7 linked regions of the Homo sapiens genome follow. The protein of the gene in region 6 interacts with the protein of the main gene of each other region in a biochemical or structural test. Each region holds a gene or a part of one and is shown on either strand. Other genes may lie near its edges.

Region 1 (3,500 bases), on a different chromosome or scaffold from region 6:
GTAATTCCAGCACTTTGGGAGGCCAAGGCGAGAGGATCACTGGAGCCTAGCCTGGGTAATATGAGATCTTGTCTCTACAAATAACAAAAAAAAAATTAGCTGAGTGTGGTGGCACATGCCTGTGGTCCCAGCTACTCAGGAGGCTGGGGTGGGAGGATTGCTCAAGCCCAGGCAGTGAAGGCTGCAGTGAGTCATGATCACACCACTGTACTCCAGCCTCGGTGACAGAGTGAGACTTTGTCTCAAAAGAAAAAAAAAAGAATTCTCCAATTATAATTGTGAAATTGTGGATTTGTCATTTTCTTTTTGTAGTTCTGTTTTTGCCTTGTGTGTTTTGATGCTGTTATTAGGTGCATACATATTTAGGATTGCTACATCATCTTGATGAATTGAGCCCTTTATTGTATTGAAAAGACCCTCTTTATCTCTAGTAATATTTTTTGCTCCAAAACATACTTTGTCTGATATTAATATAGCCACTCCATCTTTCTTTTGATTAGTGGTAGCAAGATGTGTCTTTTCCCACTCTTTTATTTTGAACCTATTTGAGTCTTTTCATTTAAAGTTGGATTCTTGTTGGCAGCCTACTGTTGGACCTTACTTTTTGTTCTTATTTGACAATCTTTGCTTCTTAGTTGAAGTGCTTAGACCATTTACTTTCAATCTGATTATTGATATGGTTAGATTTAAATCTACCATTGTACCATCAATTCTTTTCCTCTCTTTTCTCCTTTTCTGCCTTCTTTTGGACTTAGTATTTATTATTATTACTCCATTTCTTTTTCCTCTTGCCCTTCTCCTCCTCCTCCATCCTTGCTAATTGGGTGTAATTCTTTTTTTTGTTTTGTTACTCCAGTGGTTGGTTCAGGGTTTATGGTATACATCTTTAATTCATCAATCTGTCTTCAGGTGACATTACACTGATTCATGGATAGCCTAAGAACCTTCCATTTCTCTCCTCCTGAACTTTATGCCATTGCTGTCATATATTTTATTTAAATCAAAGTTATAAATCTCACAATACATGATTATTATTTTTTACAGAATTTAGACATTGAGAAAAATTCTATATATTTACTTGCATAGTTAAAATTTCTGATCTCCTCCATTCCTTTGCATAGGTCCATATTGGCTTCTGATAGGCTTTCCTAAACATTACTTATAGTTTGGGTGTGTGGGTGATATTTCCTTTCACCTTTTGTATGTTTGAAAAAGTTTTTATTATGCCTTAAAAAGCCAGCATTATTGAGATATAATTCACATGCCACACAATTCACCCATTTAAAGTATACATCAATATTTTTTAGTACATTCCTAGAATTTTGCAACCATCACTATACTCAATTATGGAACGTTGTTGTCACCACAAAAATAAACCCCCTACCCATTAGCAGTCACTCCCTATTTCCTCCAACCCCCTTAGCCTTAAGGAATCACTAATATGTTTTCTGTCTCTAGATTTGCTTGTTCTGCACATTTAGTGTAAATGGCATCATATAATATGTGAGATTTTGTGACTGGCTTCTCTCACAGCAGAATGTTTTTAAGGTTCATTCATATAGTGGTATGTTTTAGCACTTCACTCTTTTATGTACAAATAATATTCTATCACATGGGTATACCACATTCTAGCCATTCATCAGCTGATGGACATTATTTCATCTTTTGGCTATTATGAATAATGCTGTTATGAATCTTCATGTAAAAATCTGTGTGTGAACATGTGCGGTATAAATTTAGGAGTGGAACTGTGTAGTCATATGGTAACTCTACGTTTAACATTTTGAGAAACTGCTAGACTAGTTTCCAACGTGGCTGCTTCATTTTACATTCCAATCAGCAGTAGTATATAAAGGTTCCAATTTCTGCATGTCCTCACTGACACTTTTTTTTTTTTTTTCTGAGAGAGGGTCTCATTCTGTTGCCCAGTCTGGAGTGCAGTGGTGCAGTCATAGCTCACTGCAACCCCGGACTCCTCAAGCCATCCTCCCACTTCAACCTCCCAAATGTCTGGGGTTACAAGTGTGTGCTATCACGTCTGACTGCCTTTTTGATGATAGCCATTCTGGTGGGTGTGAGTGGTATGTGATTGTGGTTTGATTTGCATTTCCCTGATGGTTAATGATGTTGATTGTCTTTCATGTGCTTATTGATCATTTATATATATTTTTGTAGAAATGACTATTCATATCCTTTGCCCATTTTTAATTGCTTTATTTTTCCCTTTATTATGGAGTTGTAAGAATTCTTTATGTAACCTGGGTACAAGTCTTTTATCAGATATACAACTTGCATATATTTTCTTTCATTCAGTGGGTTGTCTTTTCACTCTCTTGATGCTATCCTTTGAAGTACAGAAGTTTTAAAATTTGACGTGTCTAATTTATCTATTTTTCTTTTGTTTCTTGGGTTTTTGGTGTCATGTATAAGAAGGCTTTTTCTCACACAAGGGCACAAAGATTTTCTCCTGTATTTTTCTAAAAGTTTTATTTATTTATTTTTTGAGACAGAGGCTTGCTTTGTTGCCCAGACTGGAGTGCAGTGGCGCAATCTCAGCTCACTGCAACCTCGGCCTCCCAGGTTCAAGCTATTCTTGTGCCTCAGCCTCCCGAATAGCTGGGTAATCTAAGAGTTTTATAATTTAGCTCTACATGTAGGTCTTTGATGCTTTTTTTTTTTTTTTTTGAGACAGAGTCTTGCCTTGTTGCCCAGGCTGGAGTGCAGTGGTATGATCTCCGCTCACTGCAAGCTCCGCCTCCTGGGTTCACGCCATTCTCCTGCCTCAGCCTCCCCAGTGGCTGGGACTACAGGTGCCCGCTACCTCGCCCGGCTAATTTTTTGTACTTTTAGTAGAGACGCGGTTTCAGTGTGTTAGCTAGGATGGTCTCGATCTCCTGACCTCGTGATCTGCCTGCCACGGCCTCCCAAAGTGCTGGGATTACAGGCGTGAGCCACGGCGCCCGGCCTGTGATCCATTTTGAGTTAATTTTCGTGTATGAGGTGAGAAGGGTCCGACTTTATTCTTTGGCAAGTGTATATCCAGTTGTCGCAGTACCATTTGTTGAAAAGAGTATTCTTTCTCTGGTGAATTGTCTTGGTACCTTTGTAGAAAATCAATTTATCATAAGTGTGAGGGTGTATTCCTGGACTCTGAATTCTATTCCACTGGTCTATTTATCTAACCTTATGCCAGTACCATGCTATCTTGATTACTGTTGCCATGTTGTAAGTTGTAAGATTGGGATGTGTGAGTCCTACAACTTTGTTCTTTTTTTTTTTTTTTTATTTTTGAGACGGAGTTTCATTCTTGTTGCCCAGGCTGGAGTGCAATGGCGCGATCTCGGCTCACCGCAACCTCCGCCTCCCGGGTTCAAGCGATTCTCCTGCCTCCTGCCTTGGGAAGCCTCTCCTGAGGCTTCCCAAGTAGCTGGGATTACAGGCATGCGCCACCACGCCCGGGTAATTTTGTATTTTTAGTAGAGACGGGGTTTCTCCATGTT
Region 2 (3,500 bases), on a different chromosome or scaffold from region 6:
CCAGAAAAGAAGTTTTTAATTAATTGAACAAACACACCTGTGTGCCGGGCGCTGTGCTAGGCCGAGGGCGAGTTGGGTATGTCTGGGCCCCGTCCCCTGGGCCTCTGCCTGCCTCGGTCTCCACAACCCGAAGCCACGAGTCCTCCATGTCTGTGGTTCCCATAATCACCTGCTATCCCCATGGGTCACGGTGGCTTTCAAGAGAGGCGGGTACCTTCTCTGTTTGCTGATAGGCCCACACAGGGAGTCCCCCTCCTGCCCTTCCCCCGTCCCCCAGGCCTGCCTGCTGTCAGCCCCTACGCCCAAGAGGGTGGGAGACTCTGGGGTAGTATTGGGCAGGCCCGGGAGAGTGGTTCCCGTGCCAGCTCCTGCTCTGCTCTCGCCCCTGGGGCTCCCTCTGCTGCTGTGGGGCCTTGTGACTCACTTTCTCTGACTCCCTTCTGTTCCCCATGTGCTGCTTCCATGCAGACGGGCCCTTGGGACCCAAAGGGAGGTGGGTACATGGCACACAATGCCCCCCGCCGGCCTTGGGACTGGTTTGCCTCTGTGCTCTGTGGGTTTCATACCCAGGCTGCCGGGAAGGGGGCCAGAGGCTCGGCAGAGCAGCAGCTGGGCCCCTCTGCAGTCAAAGCACCAGGAGAGAAGCCTTGGGCAGTGTGGCTCTTGGAAACTTCTGGAGGTTTCCAGGCCAGAGGGGAGGAAGGGACAGTGTCTGCCCCTCCCCCAGGCTCCCTTGTCGGTGGCTCAGCCAGAGGCAGGCACCTGTGGCCCTCACTCCTGCCCTCGGGAAGCTCAGCCGAGGTTCTCTGGGGGCCTGGCCCTGCCTTCCCTCTGAGCCTCCCAGCTGGGCCTGGTGTCCCCCACCAGCAAGGCCAGACAAGCAGCCAGGCCCGGGGGGCACCTGGAGCCCAGCCGTCGCTCCCTGCCAGCATTCCTGGCCCTTCCATCCTGCGGTCACGGCCTCGGCTGTCCAGGATTGGCTGGTGGAGGTGCCCCCTCACGGCCCACATTCCCCCACGGGAAGCAGGAAGCAGCCCGGGTATATGGAATTGAATAGCAGGAAGTCTCTCCATTTACACAAAGAGAGGTGGCAGGCGTGAGCGGGCAGCCCAGCACCCCGGCCCAGGCCGCCCAGGCGGGCAGGCAGGGACCTGGGTTGCATCAGCTCCCCACGCCCACCCACGGCCCCCGTGGACGAGGAGAGTACCCGCAGGGACCGGGGTGGCCCCAGGGGTGCTGCTGCCCTCGCGCTTCCGCCGGGCTGGGTCCTGTCCTCCCCGAGGCTCTGACCCCGTGCGGAGCCCCCCGACAGGCGCCTCTCCCTCCACACAGCCCCCCATCAGCACTCCCCGCCGCTCCGACTCCGCCATCTCTGTCCGCTCCCTGCACTCAGAGTCCAGCATGTCTCTGCGCTCCACATTCTCACTGCCCGAGGAGGAGGAGGAGCCGGTAGGTGTGGGGGACTCGGCGCAGAGCGGCTTCCAGGGCTGTCACCGCAGCCGTGGCACGGAGGCACCTTCCCCTCCGCCATGCCCGCCCAGCTCACAGGGAGAGGGCGGCTGGGGCCTGACGGGAACTGCAGTGCTTGCTGGTCCGTGGTGGGGACTCGAGGGACCAGGCCGGGTCCCCTGGGCATGTTCCCCCACTCCCCCTTCTCAGGGCTGCCCGGGAACTGGCAGCGGGAAGCACAGGGCTCCAGCAGGGCCCTTTCTAGTCTCACCCCAGGAAGGAGGCGGGCGAGGGCGGCCAAGGCTGGGCGGCTGAACTCATCCTCCGGGGTTGGGCCCTGCCTCTGGGGCCACAGACCTCGCTCTCCCTCCTGGGCCCCGATCAAGCCCCCCAGCTCTAAGCAGGCCTCTCTCAGGACGTGACCCTGTCCTCAGAGGACAGCCAGGCCTGGAGCAAGAGCGCCTGGGTGCCTGGGTGGTGGCGGGGCTGAGGGTGGCCTCCCGCCATCGCCTGCCTTTCCCGCTTGGTTCCAGGAGCCACTGGTGTTTGCGGAGCAGCCCTCGGTGAAGCTGTGCTGTCAGCTCTGCTGCAGCGTCTTCAAAGACCCCGTGATCACCACGTGTGGGGTGAGCCCGCCGCCCTTCCCAGCCCCCCTGCTGCCAGAGGCCCCCACAGGACCCCAGGGCTCTCGGGGGCCGGGGCTGTGGCGCCCTGGCCTTGGTCAAGGCCTGTCCTGGCTGCACTGGGCTTGGGGTACAGCGAGGCCTGTGGCTGCCATGGCCATGGACTAGGGAAAAAGAGGACCCTGCGCCACCCTCAAGCCCGCCCTTTGCCTCCACAGCACACGTTCTGTAGGAGATGCGCCTTGAAGTCAGGTAGGTTTGTGCCCCGGCCCAGGCCTGACGCCGACCGTGCCCATGGCTGCCGAGCAGAGGCGGGCGGCTTCTCCCTTGTCCCCTGCACAGCGTCCGGCCCTGTTTGGCCTCTGCTGGGGTTGGGATGGGGCTGCAGCCGTCCTAGGGACGCTCAGGCTGAGGCTCGGGACCTCCATGAGCAGAGTGGGGACACCCCAAATTCCAGTGTGTCCAGACTCAGAGACCCCACAGTGGGTGTGGGCCGAGGCTCCCCATGCCAGGGTTGGCACCCTCTGGGGAGGCCTTTCTCACTGGCGAGGCTGTCGTCCTCCCGCACGGCGCCCGCTCCTGCCTGCCTCTCCGCACTCTGCCCTCTGCCCTCTTGGCCCCACCCCACACTTTTCCGGGCACAGCTGAGTGTCACAGGTGACACTCCCTCAGCACCTGCTGCTCCTTCTTGGTGGCCCACCTGTGCCCCCGTTCCCATGTTGCGTGCCTCAGAGGCGCAGATGGACAGATCTGGCCCCCATTAGAGGCTCATGCCCACCCGGGTGAGGGAGCGTGTGCCAGGCAGGCCGTGAGGGTCAGCACGCCCTCCTCTCCCAGAGAAGTGTCCCGTGGACAACGTCAAACTGACCGTGGTGGTGAACAACATCGCGGTGGCCGAGCAGATCGGGGAGCTCTTCATCCACTGCCGGCACGGCTGCCGGGTAGCGGGCAGCGGGAAGCCCCCCATCTTTGAGGTGGACCCCCGAGGGTGCCCCTTCACCATCAAGCTCAGCGCCCGGAAGTAAGTGCCCCTCCCTGGGCACCTCTGCCTCCCTGGGGGCTGCTTCTCAGGGCTCTGGCTGAGGCCTCCCCGCATCCCGCCCTGGCACAGGGACCACGAGGGCAGCTGTGACTACAGGCCTGTGCGGTGTCCCAACAACCCCAGCTGCCCCCCGCTGCTCAGGATGAACCTGGAGGCCCACCTCAAGGAGTGCGAGCACATCAAATGCCCCCACTCCAAGTACGGGTGAGTGGGGGGCGGGCGGGGGTGGGCCGGGGTGGGCGCAGGCCCTCCACAGGCTCCGCTGAGAGCTGCCCGCTTGCTGGTCCCGGGGAGGTAGGCCGGAGCTGGGGCCACACCGGGGTCTGTAATCCTCTCTGAGGCCCAAGGCCCTGGAAACCCAGAGGGGGAGCCGAGGGCGTCCAGGA
Region 3 (3,890 bases), on a different chromosome or scaffold from region 6:
AACTATCAAGTCAGTTGATTCCAGACCACAACTCTGTTACACTCACACACACAGTCGTGTCTCTGTCTCTGTCTCCCTCTCTCTCTCTCACACACACACCCACAATTATTCTTCCTGCAAAGCTTCTCAGACTGTGCATAAAAACTAGTTTCAAATCAAAACAACTTAAGTGGATATAACCAATTACTTTGTTCCCCTGAGCCTCATTTCTTGTTTTATTTTGAAAGCTTGATCCTCCTTCCACTCTAACTTCCACAGGCCAAATTCCAGTGGTCTTCACTTGGGATCTTACCTGAGACCAAACTGAATTTATCCTCAAAAGGTAACCCCCGGATATGTCCTTGGACAGCAGAAACAGACCACGTGGGCCAAAGGAAACAAGTCTGTTTCATGATCTGATCTTGGATTCACCCCACTATTTAAAGAGACCCCACAGAAGAAGGGAAGAAAAGGGCCCCCAAAAGACCAGTTAAACAAGAGACAAATAACCAGTCAAGATATTCCTTGATAAGATCCTTAAAAAGTATCTTTAATTGATGCCAAATATGAACAGATCGTAAAGTGACAGAAGCAAGTAAAATTGCATAGATGAAAACTATGCGCATCAATTAGGTTCTCAATTCATAACATTCAATGTCCTTGACCTGACATATTACACAGTTAGAGAAGGGAGAATGCGCAGTAGGTGAAGATGAGACACGTCCTTAACTCAAGGTGGAAGCAACTGGCAAACTCAAGAAATAAAATAGCGTTTTTTCAGCTTAAATGGTTTGTTGTCCTGATGGTGCACTTTAAATTAATACTACTCAATTTTTATTTTTAACCTCAGTAATACTTTATCTTTACTATTAGAGGCATGTCACATGGAGTCCATGTTGTCTACTTACATCTGCTGCATAAACAGTCCCAAAACAGTGCGCTGAAGAGAAGAAAGGTGCTTCTGCAAGGTTTGGAGAGGAGACAACTTTGACCTGGAATATTTTACAAGAGATTTCTTGTTTTGTTTTGTTTTCTTTCCATACACCATTTCTTCTTCTTTGATTGTGGTACAAAAGTTTTCTATACTCTTTGAAGTTTCACGTCATAAAGAGTAAACTCCTAGTTAGCTCCTAAATGAAAATCACTGTGACTAGGGTTAATCTCCTTAAAGCGAAAAGCCCTGAGGTCAGCAGGGCCTCACCCCTTACATACATGCTGGACTTCCCAAGAAAGCCCAGGGTCATTTTGCCTGAGCAAAGAGGCTGGCATTTAATCCCAAGGCTTCTAAACTTTATATCTGTACCCTGAATTAGTTTGCACAGTGACCCAAGGTAATGGAACAGTTTTGGTTAACAATTCAGCTCCTGTTTGCTTCTTTACAAAAATGGTAAGTAACATACATTCTTTAAAGGTTTACCTGAGTCATACTAGACATGTTCACATATACCCTGAAATTCCATGATATAAATACAGGTAGTAATATGCCACATGGTGAATGAGAGTTCACCTCCTGAGATCACAATTCAACTTGGGTTGTGTCTGGTCTTAAAATTTTAGTTTGTTTGTCTTCTTAAAATGAACATAAACATCAAAAGACTTCATTCTTGCTTGGAAAAGCCTGAAGATAACATGCTTGTTTGGCAGTTTATATTCTTTCTAACAATTTTATACTATGGATGGTTACCACCCACCAATTCTCACCACCCCAGGAATAAGTCATTCCTGGAAGAAAATGGGAAAGTGCCTTCTGCTAATGTTCTTTCTCCTTTCTTTCAATCCAATCTACCAAACTAAGAATTAAAATGTAAAATTGTTAAAAAGCATGTGTTTTGAGGTCTCCTATATTAAATGAGAGGGCTAGGAAACTATTTTTATTGACTTTTAGATGGTACCTAATTTGAAAAACGTGTAACTATACACAATGTGAAGAAGGCCTTTTATAGGCTAAACCAAATTTCTACTTTAAAAAAATGTATTCCTCATTTACCATTTACATGTATTTTTTTAATTCTCAAGCAAATCAAGATTGTGACACCACCTGTGCTTCACGTCCACCATAGTGGAATCTAAACCTGCCCTACAATTCATTTCAGGGAAATGACTGCCCACTGGCCAGAATCCTGGAGAAGGACTTGCTATTGGTTTATCTGATTCTGCAAGGCTCACCCACGAACACACTCCCAATGAGCTGATATAACTGAAAATCAGAACTCAAGTCTCCAGGGAGTGCAAGGGGAGTTGGGCACAAATGGGAAAAGGGAGATGCAAAAACAGAAAGTTTTCCTGGCTAGAATTTGTCTTCTAGAAATCTGAGGACAGAGGAAATGAATGTCTTTGGTCTCTCTGATTCAGATCACTTCAGGTGAGTTAACCACTTCAGAGATTCTGGGATGGCTAACAGCCCTGGTGTGACCAACTCTTCTATTGCCACCCTATTGAACTAGGGCCCCAATAGACTGGAAGAGAGGAATTATAGCTATCAGCACATCAGAAGTCTTCTCCTTCTGGAGAAAACACATAGTCAGGACATGAGCTGTTACAGCTCCATGCCTAGGAAGGGGAAGAAAAGGTAAAAAGGCTGCTAAAATAAATATGAATAAGTAAACCAAAAAATAGTCATCCCTTAATAGGCAGTTTTGTTAAGTGCACCTTCAGGTCTACAAAGACATTTCAACACATTACAGTGCGAGGGTAAGAGCTTGGTCAAACATTGCATGCCTATGCTACACAGATAATCCCTGTACTCCATTCTTACTGAATTCATTGCAATGAGCTACAGATGAGCTAAGCAGCATTCACTTTCCTCACACCACCCCAAACTCATAACAACAACTCACCCCCAGTCCCAGACTGACAGGTTCACCGCATGCAGCACTTTTTTCTATATCACATGCAGAAGAATCAACCAGTCCAGAGTGTAACCACGGTAAATATACCAAATACCCAAAGTCAGTCTTGGTGCCGTTTTCTCATCCATTAACCCATCCATCCCACAGTACTGAGTGGATTATTGCTGTTGACAGAGTGCGGTGTTTCAAGTTCTGTGTGCACTAGACCTCAACGTTGAAATGAAAGATCAAGATAACCCCAAGCCTGGGAGGAGGTTGGCATTTTTTTCCTAATTGGGGATTTTTAAGCAAGTAGGAAAGGAATCGCCAGAATGAGTTAAGGTTCAGACGAGAAGGAGACATCACATGGGAGGGTTTAATGCCCTGTAGTCGGATGCTGCGCAGTTCTTGGCCCCTCATCTTCCACGATGTGTGTTGTGTTCATCTCACAGATTCACAAAAGTCACATAGGAAAATAAGATATCCATGTTCTTTCTTTTAATCGAGTTAGCCAGAATGGGTGTAACTCGAGTTTCTAGGGTGATTGCCTCACTGCTAGTTCTAGGACAGGATGGGGGAAAGGGGTGGGAGAAGCAGGACAGATTTTCAGAAGAAGCTGGGCCAGAATGTCAGGTAACAGGCAGCCACATGCTAAGTGCAGAATGAAGATTCCCCACCTCAGGGTCCTTTGAAAGGCTGTGAGTACCTCTCCACCGGTGGGCAGCTGCCGAGCTCCAGAGGCCTGTGTTCCGTGGCTCTCTTTCAGCCAGGAACAGGGTCCCCACCATTCTCTGGGCTGGGTAACGGGGGGGCAGCAGAAGTTAGATGTTCAACCTGTGAAGTGACTGCCAGGTGGGAAGATCATAGGGGCATCAGGAAATATCTGAAAGGGGTAGACCAGGAGGGAAGGCCTAGGAAAGGTTATTATGAACTGAGTGTTCCCACATCCACAACAATGCCTGAAAAGACTGGACCGTCAGAGAGATTTGCAAAGTGCTGTTACCGACAGAGAAAAAAATAAGGAAAGGTGCCAGGAGCACTACACTGGACCTGAGGAAGCCTTGTGTGTCCAAAGTGGCCCTC
Region 4 (3,500 bases), on a different chromosome or scaffold from region 6:
GTGGGAATTTAAGATGAGATTTGGGTGGGGACACAGCCAAACATTATCAGGCCCTTTCCTTAGTCTTTCTTGCCTTCCTTTAACCTGTGCTTTGCTTTCCCTCCCCATCCCTTTCACTGCAAACTCTTTCTTTCTGAAACAGTTTGATCACAGATCTGATCCTTACGTGGCCAGCTCCTTGCCTGGGTGAGCAGCTGCTGCAACCTTAATGAGCCCCAGGCCCACCCTGACAGGACCTGTCTGGCTCTCAGCCCCCAAGGGAAGACCCAGATCCCATGACCCCATCAGTGCTCAGAAATCAGACCCCCAAGCTGGAGGCAGTAAAGGCACCAGAGACTCACTCAAAGTCAGTGAAAGGAAAACAAGGAGGGACTTGGGAGGCTGTGTGGAGTTTTGTGAGCTGGTTTTGCAGGTATCTAAGTCTGCCAGCAATGTCCCTTTCACATGTGTCCTGGGGCCCTTGGCTAGGACTAGGACAGCCTCTTGAAGGAACTAAACCAGAACAAACAAGACAGTAGAATCTCTTCCCCTTCCCACCCCTCTCCTCACAACTCCCAATATGGACACACATCCCCTGCACTCAGGGTGCCCTCCTTCTCCCCAAGCACCTGTCTGCCTTGCTCTTAGTGTGCACCCTTTTCAGTCAGTTCAAGCATCTCTGCCTCTTTGAAACTATATTCTCCACATCATCTTATAGATTCTTTTTTCGAGACAGAGTCTTGCTCTGTCGCCCAGGCTGGAGTGCAATGTCACATTCCCGGCACACTGCAACCTCCACCTCCCAGGTTCAAGCGATTTTCCTGCTTCAACCTCCCCCGTAGCTGGGATTATAGGTGTGCACCACCATACCCAACTCATTTTTGAATTTTTAGTAGAGACCAGGTTTTGCCATGTTGGCCATGGCTGGTCTCGAACTCCTGAGCTAAAGTGATCCGCCCACCTTAACCTCCCAAATCATGCCTGGGATTACAGGCATGAGCCACCATGCCTGGCCAGATTCTTTAATGTAACATCTGTGGCCCACCCGTGTTCATAACAGCATTATTTGCAGTGAGCAGTAGGTGGAAGCAGCCCAAGTGTCCATTGACTGAGGAATGGAAAAACAAAATGTGATACGCACGCATAATGGAATATTATCCAGACTTAAAAAGAAGGTGATTCTGACACATGCTGACATGTGTGATTCTGACATGGATGAGCCCTGAGGACATTATGCTGAGTGAATTAGGCCAGACACCTAAGGACGGTGCTATAAGGTTCCACTTACATGTGGGTACCTGGAGTAGTTAGTCATGGAGACAGAAAGTAGGATGGTGGGCGGCAGGGGTAGGGGAATGGGCATTAGTGTTTAATGGGTACAGAGTTTCAGTTTTACAAGATAAATGGAGTTTTAGAGATGGATGATGGTGACGGTTGCCCAACAACATGAATGTATTTAATATAATTGAACTGAACATTTTCAAGTGATTACAATGATCAATTTTATGTTACTTTACCACAATTTGAAAAGTACATAAAGTACCTTTTGTGTATTTTACCACAATTTTTTTTTAAAGAAGATAGCACGATGGCATGATTTATAATTCTGGGTCAGCATCTCACAGTACCCTGAGCCTCTTAAAGTCAGGGAGCATTTTATATTCGTCTCTGTACCCCCAGAAAATGGCATGCTGCAGGGCACATGGTGGGTGCCTGTGAGAGTGAGGGATATGCACATACAAAGAAATCGGTAACAAAACACACACGACAGCTCCCGCAACAGCCCGTTCTCTGGGTGTCAGTGTTAGATACTTTCGGAACTGCTCTTTTCAGCTCTTCCCACCACAGACCCATTTAATGGGCTATAGTCACAATTGAATGAATGATACCCTTGTGCCATGAAAAATAAATATACAGCTTCATGCCCAGAAGATACCCAGGGAACCAGCAAAAGCTGATTCCTCATTATCTACCCAGCATCCTTGTGAGTGTGAAGAAGGTGGAGACCACTCTGCAGGCAGCATCAGCTGTAGCTCTTGCTGAAAGCAAGGTTTCTCAGATTCTGTTCCTGATGGGGCCAGGGGGATGTTTGCTTACTCTCAGACAATGTGTTATTAGGTCCTACCTGATCAACATCATTCTGTTAGTTTGGCCACGTTGTAAATTTCTCTTGTAGCCATAAAATATGAATTATCTACAAACCTCTGTTGTACACATTAGAAAACAACCTATATCCCCACATTGATATCGTTCCATCTTAAAACCCCCCCAAATCATAGGATTACCTGAGATCTGAAATGTGGGAGGGTAAATTGAATTTGAAGACTGAATTATAGCTACAACCACTTGGCTTTTGAGACAGAGTCTCGCTGTGTCATCTAGGCTGGAGTGCAGTGGCGCAATCTTGGCTCATTCTGCCTCTCAGGTTCAAGCGATTCTCCTGCCTCAGCCTCCCGAGTAGCTGCAATTACAGGCACCCGCTGCCATGCCTGGCTAATTTTTGTATATTTAGTGGATCCGGGGTTTCACCATGTTGGTCAGGCTGGTCTTGAACCCCGACCTCAAGCAATCCACCTGCCTCGACCTCCCAAAGTGCTGGGATTACAGGCATGAGCCACTGCGCTGAGCCCCACTTGGCTTTTGATTTGTGTCCTGGTTCACTCACAGTGTCACCTTTAGCTTCATTTGTGTATTCAGGCAACATCGTGGTGAGTTGGTTCCACTTTTTGTGTGTATATTCAGGGTTCGTCTCCTCCACACCTGCCTGCAGCCCCAGGATCTCAGGCAGTCCCTTTGCTGTTGGAGCTGATGGAGAGGGGCATTGTTTCCAGTGGAGATGTAGGAATGTGTCCACACAGCAGAAACAGGGCTTCATTCTCTTTCAATTGCTTCATCTGCTCAGATTTCCTGGACATTATAACAAATAGGAAAAAGTAATAGGCGCTAAGTAGGTTTCTAATTCACAGAAGAAATAGCAAGTAAAAAAGAATGAACCAAAATGAGGTATATACCACCCTAGCCTTCCTGGTTAGATTCCAAACACTGGCTGCATTTTTCATTTAGATGGTTTTGTGGTTGATTTAATCATTTTAGAGAGTACTGGGCCATTTTAAAGCATTTTTCAGCTCTAGAGGTAGATTGATTTTGGTTTGTTATTTTTTTTTCCTTGCTCAAAGCTATTACTTGGATAATACCTTTTTACAGATGTGTACTAGACCTTGCTATAGTGTGCAAAAATATTAGTTTCTTATATTCTCTCCTTTTTTACATTAATGTTTGCTGAGAAACCCCTCCTCTCACAGCCAGATTGTCCCACTTGCCCTGCCTGCTTGCTCATCTCAGGGGCTGGGATCAGCATCACCTGCCTCTGCTTGGAAACATGTTAGAAATGCAGACTGTCAGGCCCACCCCACCCTTTTGATTAAAATTGCACTGGGACAAGAACCACCCCCACTCCTGCCCCTGCATTAAAGCCGTTGCTCTCCGGTAAGCAATTTTGGATGACTAATAATCTGTGATTT
Region 5 (3,500 bases), on a different chromosome or scaffold from region 6:
TGGTGATTTTTAATAAGTCATTTCTCCTCTTTGACCACCACGTTTGGTTATTGCTGCCAGACCAAATCACTGGGTCTTTCTGGTGACTCCTCAGGGATGGGTCCTATCACTGTGTCAGTTCCCTCCACTTCTTGTCCCACCAAAACCCTGCTTCCTCCTCTACCCATATAACTGAGGTCCCAGCCTTGCTGCTGAGCCCACCTGAGTTATATAACTAATTCGTAAAATTTCATACTGAAGGCATAATCATTCAGGTATCTAGAAAATGCACTGGTCACCAATACTCAGAGATCATCTAATTTAACATACTTGTTTTGCAGAAGAGAGAAAGAAAACTCCGGGAGGGGAAATGACTTATTCAAAATCACAGAGCAAGTTGGTAAGGAAGCCAGACATGGAGGCAAGCATCTCTGCCTCTCAGAGGGTTTTCTGTCATGCTACACCCTCTGCACTAGCTCTAGTTTGCCTCCAAATGCTGTTTTTTTTCTTCACTTACAGCCAATCTAAAAAGGGCCCTCAGGATCGCCCACAATGCCCAGCTTAGCTTCTTGACAAACACCTTAATGGCGCAGCATTGCCTGTTGGCTGCCATCGGCTCTTGAGTGGGTGGTAAGTGCACTAGCGGGAATTCCCTGGCGCTCTGCAGAATGTCCTTGGCCCACTCCCAGGAGGCCACCACAAGCCAGATGATCACCATACCCGGGGAGGTGGCACATTTGGGGTTTTGGGTCAGCACTGGGATGTCCAAGTTTTGCAGTTCTGGGGAGGCCTCTGCCCACAGTCAGGAGTGTGGCCATGGTCTCATTCACTCTCTGGAAAAGGAGAGGCCTTAGTCTTCCTCACCCTGTCCAAGGCCCTCCCGCAGATCTGCTAATTTTCTGTCCCCTGAGGCTCGACTTCTTGGTGAGTTAAGAAAAGGGAAAAGTGAAGACAAAGACCAGTGGCCAGGCCTCAGGGTTTTTAAAATTTAAATTAAAAAAAATTTTTTTTTGAGACATAGTCTTGCTCTTGTCACCCAGGCTGGAGTGCAATGGCGTGATTTTGGCTCACTGCAACCTCCGCCTCTCGGGTTCAAGTGATTCTCCTGCCTCAGCCTCCTAAGTAGCTGGGATTACAGGTGCCCACCACCACGCTCAGCTAATTCTTTGTATTTTTTAGTAAAGACAGGGTTTCACCCTATTGGCCAGGCTGATCTCGAACTTCTGACCTCAGGTGATCCACCCACCTCAGCCTCCCAAAGTGCTGGGATTACAAGTGTGAGCCACTGCACCTGGCCTAATTTTTTTAAGACAGGGTTTCACTCTATGGCCCAGGCTGCAGTGCAGTGGTACAATCTCTGCTCTCTGTAGCCTCAACTTCTTGGGCTCAAGCAATCCTCCTGCCTCAGTCTCCCAAGTAGCTGTGACTGTAGGTGTATGCCACCATACACAGCTAATCTTTGTATTTTTTGTAGAGATAGGGTTTCGCCATGTTGCCCAGGCTGGTCTCAAACTCCTGGGCTCAAGTGATCCTCCCAGCTTGGCCTCCCAAAGTGCTAGGGTTACAGATGTGAGCCCCACAGCCAGACCAAGTCTCAGTTTCTTAACTGCAACAGGGAGATGGTTGAACTAAATAACCTGTAAGTCATGTTAAAAAGTTCCATTATTTTAGCCTAAGTGGATTGACTGTGAAGCCGATCTTCTGGTTCCTCATTGCCAGTCTTAAAGTCCAGATTCTTTAGCATGACACAACAACCCTTACAATGTGATGCCAATGCACCTTTCCAGCCCTGTTTTCTTTTGTAGAGATGGGGTTCTGCTCTGTCGCTCAGGCTGGAGTGCAGTGGCACAATCATAGCTCACTATGACCTCAAACTCTTGGTCTCAAGCAATCCTCCAGCCTCAGCCTCCTGAGAAGCTGGGATTACAGGCATGAGCCACCATGCCTGGTTCTGCCAGCCTCATGTTCTGTCCTGTACCTTCTACCCTTTATTGCTCACCTCAAGTACCCCAACCTCTAGCTATACTGACCTAATTGTGTTGCCTGAGCATATCCTGCAGAGTCCTGCCTCTGTGCCTTTATTTCATTCCCTCTCCCTAGAACTCCTTTCCCATATGTACTCTGGCCTCCCCATGGTGCGCTACTTCAAAATGCAACTTGAATGCCACTTCATCAGGGAGGGCTATCTGTCTGGGGTTAAATGGACTTTCTATGTGCTCCCAATGGCATTATATGTATCCTCATTTATAGCATATTTTGTATTACATTATAAATAATGGTTTACATGCCTGTAGTCCCCTTTGAACTCATCCTCATGGAAGTTACAGCCGGTGGGAGAGATAGACATGGAAATACTAAACATTTCATTACAGTGGTGATAAGTGGAATGAAAGAGAAGAACCAGGAGCTACAAAAGTGTGTGGCAGGAGATATAGGCTGTGATATCAGGGATGGCCTCCCTGAGTACATGACATCTCAGCTGACATCTGTGAATGAACAGAAGAGGCTAGGTGAAGGCTGAGAATGAGACTCCAGGAAAGAGTACCTTACTGAATTCCTGAATGGGAAGGAGCCTGTATATTAGAAAAAGAGAGGGAAGGGCAGGGTGACTGGAGTCTAGTGACCAATGGGGAGAATGGGTGGTATAAAAGGAAGTCAGAGAGATGGGAAGGACTCAGTCATGCAGGGCCTCATCGGCTTCATTAAGCATGTTTTTGTTTTTGTTTTAGACAGGGTTTTGCGCTGTGGCCCAGGCTTGAGTGCAGTGGTGTGATCTCTGTCCACTGTAGCCTCAGCTTCCTGGGCTCAAGCAATCCTCCTGCCTCAGCCTCCCAAGTAGCTGTGACTACAGGCACATGCCACCACACCCAGCTACTCTTTGTATTTTTTTGTAGAGATGGGGTTTTGCCATGTTGCACAGGCTGGTCTCAAACTCCCGGACTCAAGTGATCCTTGTGGGTGCTGCGTCCAAGGGAGTTTATAATATTGTTCTTTCCATTTTCATATGCATTTGAAAGTTTTCCATAATAAAACTAAAAGGAAGAAGTGATAGTAGTACAGTAATAATAGTATAATCTTTGTCCTAAGAGTCATTTTAAGCCAGGTGAGGGTGGGAGTAAGGTGATCAGATTTTGGTTTGTTTTTAATTTTTTTTATTATTCAATATTTCAGTCATTCAGAAAGGCATAAAATAACAATATATATTGGAAAATCACCAGCCAGCTTTGTCAAACATTAGTTTTTGCCATATAGGCTTCAGATATAACTGACTCCTGAGTGGACTGATTGATTGATTCATTGATTGATTTTTGATACAGAGTCTTGCTTTGGCTGGAGTACAGTAGTTCAATCCTGGCTCACTGTAACCTCCGCCTCCCAGGTTCAAGTGATTCTTGTGCCTCAGCCACCCAAGTAGCTGGAACTACAGGCATGTACCACCATGCATAGCTAATTTTTTTGTATTTTTAATAGAGATAGGGTTTCACCATGTTGGCCAGGCTGGTCTCGAACTCCTGGCCTCA
Region 6 (3,500 bases):
GGGAGACCTCAAGAAACTTACAGTCATGGCAGAAGGTGAAGGGGAAGCAAGGCACGTCTTACATGGTGGCAGGAGAGAGTGAGTGTGCAGGAGAAACTGTCGCTTTTGAAACCATGAGATCTTGTGAGAACTCCCTCACTATCACGAGAACAGCCTGGGGGAAACCACCTCATGATGCAATCACCTCCCACCAGGTCCCTCCCTTGACACGTGGGGATTGCAATTCAAGATGGGATTTGGGTGGGCACACAGAGCCAAACCATATCAATTCTCCACTTGCATAACCTCATACTTTATTCAATATGTGCTTGCTGAGACAGGCACAGTCTAAGTGCTGGTGATACAAAGAAGAATAAAAACCCTGTTTCTCTTCTAAAAGGAGAGAAGCATGAAAAGAAGCTATTACAACCCAGTGGGATAGGGTTAATGGAAGCAGGTGCAGGATACACAGTGTCACAAAGAAGGGGCTGATCAGCCATTGACAGGGATTGGGGAAAGAAAGGAGGTCAGAAGGCTGGGTGCAGTAGCTCACGCCTGTAATCCCAGAACTTTGGAAGACTGATGTGGGTGGGTTACCTGAGGTCAGGAGTTCGAGACTAGCCTGGCCAATGTGATGAAACCCCATCTCTACTAAAAACATAAAAATTAGCTGGGCATGGTGCTGGGCACCTGTAATCCCAGCTACTTGGGAGGCTGAGGCAGGAGAATCACTTGAGCCCAGGAGGCGGAGGTTGCAGCGAGCCGAGATTATGCCATTGCACTCCAGCCTGGGTGACAGAGTGAGACTCCATCTCAAAAAAAAAAAAAAAAAAAGGGTCAGGAAGTGTTTCTCTCCGGAAGAAATTAGTGAGTGAGTTCAAAATGGGGAAGAAGAGTGTTCTAGGCATGGAACAATAATGGGTTTTGGGGACCTGTAAGCTGTTCATGAGATTGGAGTGTGGGGTGCTGGAAGTACTGGTTAGGTAGGGGTGATGAGGCTAGAGGCATAGGCTGGGGTTAGGATATGAAGGGCCTTGTGGATAATGAGGGAGCCATTTAAGAATTATGAGGGGAGTAACACAATCAGTTTTGTGTTTTAGAAAAATCCCTTGGTTCCAGGGTATGGGTTGTTGAGCAGCTTGGATTTGAGAGGGTGAAGACCAAAGGCAGGGAGACAAAATAGGAAACCTCTGCAAATCAGAAAAGATGAGGACTAAACACTGGCAAACAGAATGTGGATGGAGAAGAGGTGATAGATCCAGATCTGTTCCGTAGCAAATAGGAAATATTAGAATGGTAAAATATTGGTGGCCATTTGGGTATGAGGAGTACTGACACTTGTCACCGTAACTTAAAACGTGCCTGGATAGATATAAAGGTTAATACCTGTTAATTTGCATAGCCTGTTGCTTTATACAGACAATTCAAGATACATTGTAATGAAGGCAAGAGCAATATATTGTCTGTTATTGTTTTTAAGGTTTAGTTCTTGTAAATAAAAATGTGAGAAAGTTGTATTAATATCTTCAAGGAAATAGATTTTTATTTGCTATAAAATGCATGATTTTAATAAAATTTGAGACTACAAAACAACATATATTTATAACAGTATTGAAAGTAACATGAAATTCTTATAATCTAAATAATGAATTCTACATTTGCATGTATAGTTGAGTAGTTAACATCTTTGGGCAATTCCATTTTCAGCTATGATGCCATTTAAAGCCAAGTATTGAAATAAACTGAGCAGAATTTACCAAATATTAAACCAAAAATTTAAAATAATATTTTTACTGAAATGTTTAGTAATCATTTCGGGAAGAACAAAAATGTTTTGGTACCATTAATACATAACACAAAAATGATTTAAAAAGTATTATTTTATCATCTCATTCTTATAAAATTTCCTTTTTTGGTGTATTTTTATAATCTATACAATATATTAATATGGTAATACATGTGTAATTGATAAGCAATACATACAATAAAGTTAAAAATACACAATAAGGGTATTTGTTCAGAAAAGTTTTACTATTGGGATGAGCCATCAAACGTTTGGAGACCCTGGCCTGCACCATAAAGACCAAAGTCCTTTTCATGGTACACAGGACTCCTCAAGATCTAGTCATATTTGTCACTGTGTTCTCCAGCTACATGGGACTTCTGGCATCCCTCTAACATGACTCTGTGACCTTACTTAGACTTTGCCTATCTATTGCATCCTACTTGAAGTGTCCTCTCCTGCTTATCTCCTCTTCATCATTGAAAACACAGTTCTTGGCTGGGCGTGATGGCTCATGCCTGTAATTCCAGCACTTTAGGAGGCTGAGGTGGGCGGATCACTTGAGTCCAGGAATTGGAGACCAGCCTGGCCAACATGGTGAAACCCCGTCTCTACTAAAAAAATACAAAAAATTAGCTGGGCATGGTGGCGCACGCCTGTAATCCCAGCTACTTGGGAGGCAGAGGTTGCAGTGAGCTGAGATCACACCACTGCACTTCAGCCTGGGCAACAGAATGAGACTCTGTCTCAAACAAAACAAAACAAAACAAAGCAAGACAAAAAAACCCCGCCACAGTTCTTAAGACATCCTTCTTTTTCTCTGAGACAGGGTCTTGTCCTGTTGCCGGGTTGGAGGGCAGTGGCAGAATTATGGCTCACTACAGCCTCGTCATCCTGGGCTCAAGTGATCTTCCCACTTTAGCCTCCTGAGTGGCTGGGACTAAAGGTGCATACCACCACACCTGGTTACTTTTAAATTAAATTAATTAATTAGTAGAGATAGAATCTTGCCATGTTGCCCAGGCTTGTCTAGACCTCTCAGGTTCAAGTGATCCTCCTGTTTCAGCCTCCCAAGTGTCTGGGATTACAAGCATGTGCTACCACACCCAGCTAATTATTTTAATTAATTAATTAATTTTTTTTGTAGAGATGGAGTCTCACCATGTTGCCTGGGCTGGTCTTGAACTCCTAGGCTGAAGCAACTCTCCCACCGTGGCCTTCCAAAGTGCTGGGATTACAGGTGTGAGCCACTGTGCTCAGCCAAGTCACCTTCTTTCTAAAGTCTTCCATGACTGTTAGAGATATAAATTTGCTTCCTCCCCTGTGATGCTTCTGTGCCTTTTATATCCTTTAAAAACTGTTACATGTTATTTATTTTCACATCTGTTTCCTCTTCTAGATTGTTAGCTACTTGGGGATTGTGTTCCTGGCTTTTCTTTTTTGAATCCGTAACACTTAGTGCTGACACTAGAAATAAGTATTTACTGTATTGATTTGTATTTAGTTACAGAGCACATTCTAGATCTATTTCCATTAAAATTAGCTGAAATACACAATTATGAACCGGCTCCACATCAGGCTTTCTCTTGTGTATGCCCTGACAATCAAGAGATTTTGTTGTATAATATCTTATTTCTCTCTTTTTTGATAAAGCCTTCTGAAACCAAAGCAAAGGCAATTGAAAAGATTGATGATGTTCTTGAGTTGTACATGGGAATTCGAGATATTGATTTAGGTA
Region 7 (3,500 bases), on a different chromosome or scaffold from region 6:
TGCTCTGTAGCCCAGGCTGGAGTGCATGGTGCAATCATAGCTCACTGCAGCCTTTACCTCCTGTGCTCAAGGGATCCTCCCACCTCAGTGTCCTGAGTAGCTGGGACTATAGGTGTATGCCACCATACCCGGTTCATTTTTTATTTTATTTTAGTTTGTATTTTTGTAGAGATGGGGTCCTGCTATGCTGTCCAGGCTGGCTTTGAATTCCTGGCCTTAAGTGATCCTTGTGTCTCCACCTCCCAAAGTGGTATTACCAACGTCAGGCACCATGCCTGGCCTTAGAGTCCTATTTGAATTTGGGGACCCTCTTGGGACTGGGCTATTATTTAGGTCTGGAGGCACAGTCAGGTCTGGGGACCCTGGCATCCTACCCGGTCCTCGCGGCTGCCTGTCTCCTCTTCTTCAGGACCTCGTGAACTGGAGCCGTCGCTGCTGCCAGGGATTCGCATCAGGTTCTTTTGCTCGGAGAAAGAGGCTGAGGCTGACAAACAGCGACCGGTGGAGTTAAGCGATGGGCGGGGTCACAATGTGTGCAGACCAATAAGCGGGAAGAGAGAGGACTGGGAACCAATGAGGCTGATTGGGTAGGGCTGTTGGAAACCAATAAGAATCATTCCCACCGAGGAGTGTGACCCTGGGAAGGCCTAGTTAGGGCTTAAGGAGGGAACCAGAACGTGAAGGAGAGCTAAGCCCTGTGCAGAGCTGGAAATGGGACTGGAGCCAAGGCCCAAGGCCAGGTCAGGTCACTGGGCAGGCAGGGCGCGTGTGGGGCTGGGGCCTCGGGAGCCGGGGCGGGGCTCAGGCACTAACCCTTGCTGTGGCGCCAGCAGCAGAGGGCCACCCCAGTGATGACCATAAGGAGAGTTGTGGTGGCAGCGGCCACTCCGGCCACTATCCGCACAGTGGGCAGCAAGTCTGCAGGGAGCAGAGGGGACATCCTGAGAAGGCTGAGGGGGAACCAGGAAGCGGGGGCTCAGGGATTGAGTTTGGGATTCCTGGGTTCAAAAGGTCGCACATTTGAAGATTCAAAGGCCCTTGAATTTGGGGTTCCCCAAGTTTGAGAGTGAGTTTAAACTCCCTGGCTTTAGGGAGTCTTAGAATTTGAGGGGTCCTTTACTTTGCAATTTGCTTTGCAATCATTGGAGTTTCCCTTTTTGGGGCCCCTAGGTGTGAGGAGTCTCTCAGTTTAGGATTCAGAATGTGAAGGCATTTGTGGTTGAGGGGTGTCTTGGGAATCAATGAGCCCACAGTTTTGAGACTCCCGAGGTTTGGAGGTCTCCTCTGCATTTGAGGGTATGAGGTTTTGCAGCCCTCGGCTGGGGGATCCCTGCGTTTGTGGGGTTTAGACTCTCCAGATTTGGGGTCTTCGGGCTGGGGTCTCACCTCTACGGCCCAGGCTGGCCTGGGCACCTCCCTCGCCCAGCCGGTTCCGGGCACTGCAGTTAAAGCTCCTGCTAAAGTCAGACTCCTGGGTCCCCGAAATGTGTAGCACAGAGATCAGGCCCGGACCCAGTCCCCCGCGGCTCTCTGGGGCAGGGAATGTCTCCACCAGGAACCGGCCCTGCGACCCCGCCTCCAGGAAGCCCTCATCCCAAGACCAGACCTGGGGGCACAAAAGAGGGAGGACACGGAGGAGACTGAGGAGGGGAGGAAGAAGCAGGAGGGATGTCTGGGAAGTCAGAAATGGTCACAGTAGTTTCGGGGGGCCAGGTGGGAGGTCAGGGATCACGGCTGGATGGGTCACGGGAGGAGTGACATTTCCTTACCACGGCATCTGGGGCGGGAGAGGCGAAAACCAGACACTGGAGGCGAGCAGGGCCCCTCAGGAAGGCAGGCGCAGAGTGCAGGGCGGTCACTACTGGGGGAGCTGGGATGGAGACTGTAGGTCACTCAGAGGAGAGGTCTTGCCCTCCCCAAAGGCTGTAACAAAGCCGGGTCTGTCCAGCGCACTCTCCGCTAACCTCAATCAATCAGGCCACGCCGCCTCCAAACTCCGATTCTCCTAAAAGCCTCGCCTTCAATAGGTCCGGTCTCCAGCCCCCGCTGGGTGTAAAGCTCCTTCCAGGCCACTCCCACTGCATTAGCCCTTGCCCCCTCTGTCCGCTCCCTATCCCAGGACGGGCCAGGTCCCCTAGGAAGCCCCGCCTTCTCACCGTTCACAGTCAGCCGAGCCTCCGCGGCGCCGCCCCGCAGGCCCGATAGCCCAGCCTCAGCTCTGCACACATAGTCGCCTGCGTCCTCGGGCCCCACCGACGGAAGACGCAGTGTGGCTCCAGAGCCCAGCACCTGCGACAGGGAAGGGGCGTCAGAAGCCGGATTTGTAAGGAAGCCTGGTCCCCCTCCAGCCACCGCCTCAGATTTAGGGCTGTACCTGCGCGCCACCGCGGCGGGTCCAGGTTACCCGTGGAAGCGGGTTCCCGCGCCAGGCGCAGCTGAAGGAAGCGTCTTCCCCCACGTCCACGGACACGGGCTCCGGCTTTGCCTGCAGAATCGGCCCAACTGGACGAAAGAGACTAGGGGTCACATGGCCGGGGCGGAATGCAGCCACTGACCTGGGATCAGCCAGCCCCACAGAAACACCACACCCTCTAGGGCGCAAGAATATGCCCCAGCTCCACACTCTCCTCCTCCTAATACCCCACGCTCGCTCTCCCGGCCCCGCCCCTCCAGGCCCCGACCCTCAACAGCCCTGAAAGCCACGGCCACCTTTGACCACACCCACAGGCCGGCCCCAGCTCACACAGCACATCCAGCGCAGTACTGCGGTTGGCGCTACCCACGGCGTTGCTGACCTCGCAGGACACGGGCTCAGTCAGGAACGAGGCGTCTGCCACGACCTCTAACCTTGGCCCGCGGGCCCCGAGCACCGGAGAGCCCCCTTTTGCCCACCTGAGGAAATGGTGGCGCTGTTAACGTTGTCCTGGCCTCTCTGGCACACCTACTCAGGTCCCAGCCCTTCCCAAGCTCACTCTTGGGGCTGGGGAGAGGTGGGTCTTCGTCCTCACCTGTAGCCTGTGACAGGAGGCTGGGCTGTGGCCTGGCACAGGAAAATGACCTTCTCTCCCTCCTGCACAGTGTGTGGCGAAGCAGACAGAGTCACCTCTGGGGGGTCTGTGAGGGTGGGACAATGGTCAGATGGGCAAGGACCAGGAACACCTCCGTCACTGGCCTAGGTGTCCAGTCCCTGGTTCCTCCATCCCAGGAGTCTGGGCCCCTAATCCCCTTCTCCCTTTGAGCCAGGAGTCTGGGCTTTCAGTTCCCAATTTCCCCAGTTACCTCAATGTGCCAGCCTTCTGCCCTCTCCTAGTCTCCCCGATGTGAGAGTCAAGGCCCAGCTTTCTCTTTCCCCAGGGACCCCAGCTGTCTGTCCTCTCCTGCTCGGAGTCTCACTCTGCTGCTGAGTGGCATGATCTCGGCTCACCGCAACATCTGCCTCCCGGGTACAAGTGATTCTCCTGCCTCAGCCTCCCAGGTAGCTGGAATTACAAGTGTGTGCT

What was found.
Region 1: the proteins of GIPC2 (region 6) and RAMP3 interact in a test that uses a peptide from one of them, tested with the Homo sapiens proteins (one large-scale study listed by IntAct).
Region 2: the proteins of GIPC2 (region 6) and TRAF7 interact in a test that uses a peptide from one of them, tested with the Homo sapiens proteins (one large-scale study listed by IntAct).
Region 3: the proteins of GIPC2 (region 6) and KCNA1 interact in a test that uses a peptide from one of them, tested with the Homo sapiens proteins (one large-scale study listed by IntAct).
Region 4: the proteins of GIPC2 (region 6) and ABCC4 interact in a test that uses a peptide from one of them, tested with the Homo sapiens proteins (one large-scale study listed by IntAct).
Region 5: the proteins of GIPC2 (region 6) and MMP24 interact in a test that uses a peptide from one of them, tested with the Homo sapiens proteins (one large-scale study listed by IntAct).
Region 7: the proteins of GIPC2 (region 6) and KIRREL2 interact in a test that uses a peptide from one of them, tested with the Homo sapiens proteins (one large-scale study listed by IntAct).

The regions. Positions count from the first base shown.
Region 1 is NC_000007.14:45,164,291-45,167,790, forward strand, and holds part of RAMP3 (receptor activity-modifying protein 3 precursor), read left to right. Parts: intron 1-3,500. UniProt on the Homo sapiens protein: Accessory protein that interacts with and modulates the function of G-protein coupled receptors including calcitonin gene-related peptide type 1 receptor (CALCRL), calcitonin receptor (CALCR) and G-protein coupled estrogen receptor 1 (GPER1).
Region 2 is NC_000016.10:2,169,282-2,172,781, forward strand, and holds part of TRAF7 (E3 ubiquitin-protein ligase TRAF7), read left to right. Parts: intron 1-1,332; coding exon 1,333-1,449; intron 1,450-1,982; coding exon 1,983-2,075; intron 2,076-2,290; coding exon 2,291-2,324; intron 2,325-2,909; coding exon 2,910-3,093; intron 3,094-3,183; coding exon 3,184-3,318; intron 3,319-3,500. UniProt on the Homo sapiens protein: E3 ubiquitin and SUMO-protein ligase that plays a role in different biological processes such as innate immunity, inflammation or apoptosis. Potentiates MAP3K3-mediated activation of JUN/AP1 and DDIT3 transcriptional regulators.
Region 3 is NC_000012.12:4,914,867-4,918,756, reverse strand, and holds the end of KCNA1 (potassium voltage-gated channel subfamily A member 1), read right to left. Parts: 3' UTR 501-3,890; downstream 1-500. UniProt on the Homo sapiens protein: Voltage-gated potassium channel that mediates transmembrane potassium transport in excitable membranes, primarily in the brain and the central nervous system, but also in the kidney.
Region 4 is NC_000013.11:95,067,452-95,070,951, reverse strand, and holds part of ABCC4 (ATP-binding cassette sub-family C member 4), read left to right. Parts: intron 1-3,500. UniProt on the Homo sapiens protein: ATP-dependent transporter of the ATP-binding cassette (ABC) family that actively extrudes physiological compounds and xenobiotics from cells.
Region 5 is NC_000020.11:35,233,190-35,236,689, reverse strand, and holds part of MMP24 (matrix metalloproteinase-24 preproprotein), read right to left. Parts: intron 610-3,500; exon of another isoform or gene 499-609; intron 1-498. UniProt on the Homo sapiens protein: Metalloprotease that mediates cleavage of N-cadherin (CDH2) and acts as a regulator of neuro-immune interactions and neural stem cell quiescence.
Region 6 is NC_000001.11:78,122,466-78,125,965, forward strand, and holds part of GIPC2 (PDZ domain-containing protein GIPC2), read left to right. Parts: intron 1-3,415; coding exon 3,416-3,497; intron 3,498-3,500.
Region 7 is NC_000019.10:35,859,911-35,863,410, reverse strand, and holds part of KIRREL2 (kin of IRRE-like protein 2 isoform c precursor), read right to left. Parts: intron 3,115-3,500; coding exon 3,009-3,114; intron 2,893-3,008; coding exon 2,744-2,892; intron 2,503-2,743; coding exon 2,375-2,502; intron 2,290-2,374; coding exon 2,157-2,289; intron 1,871-2,156; coding exon 1,770-1,870; intron 1,607-1,769; coding exon 1,387-1,606; intron 919-1,386; coding exon 814-918; intron 497-813; exon of another isoform or gene 485-496; coding exon 375-484; intron 1-374. UniProt on the Homo sapiens protein: May regulate basal insulin secretion.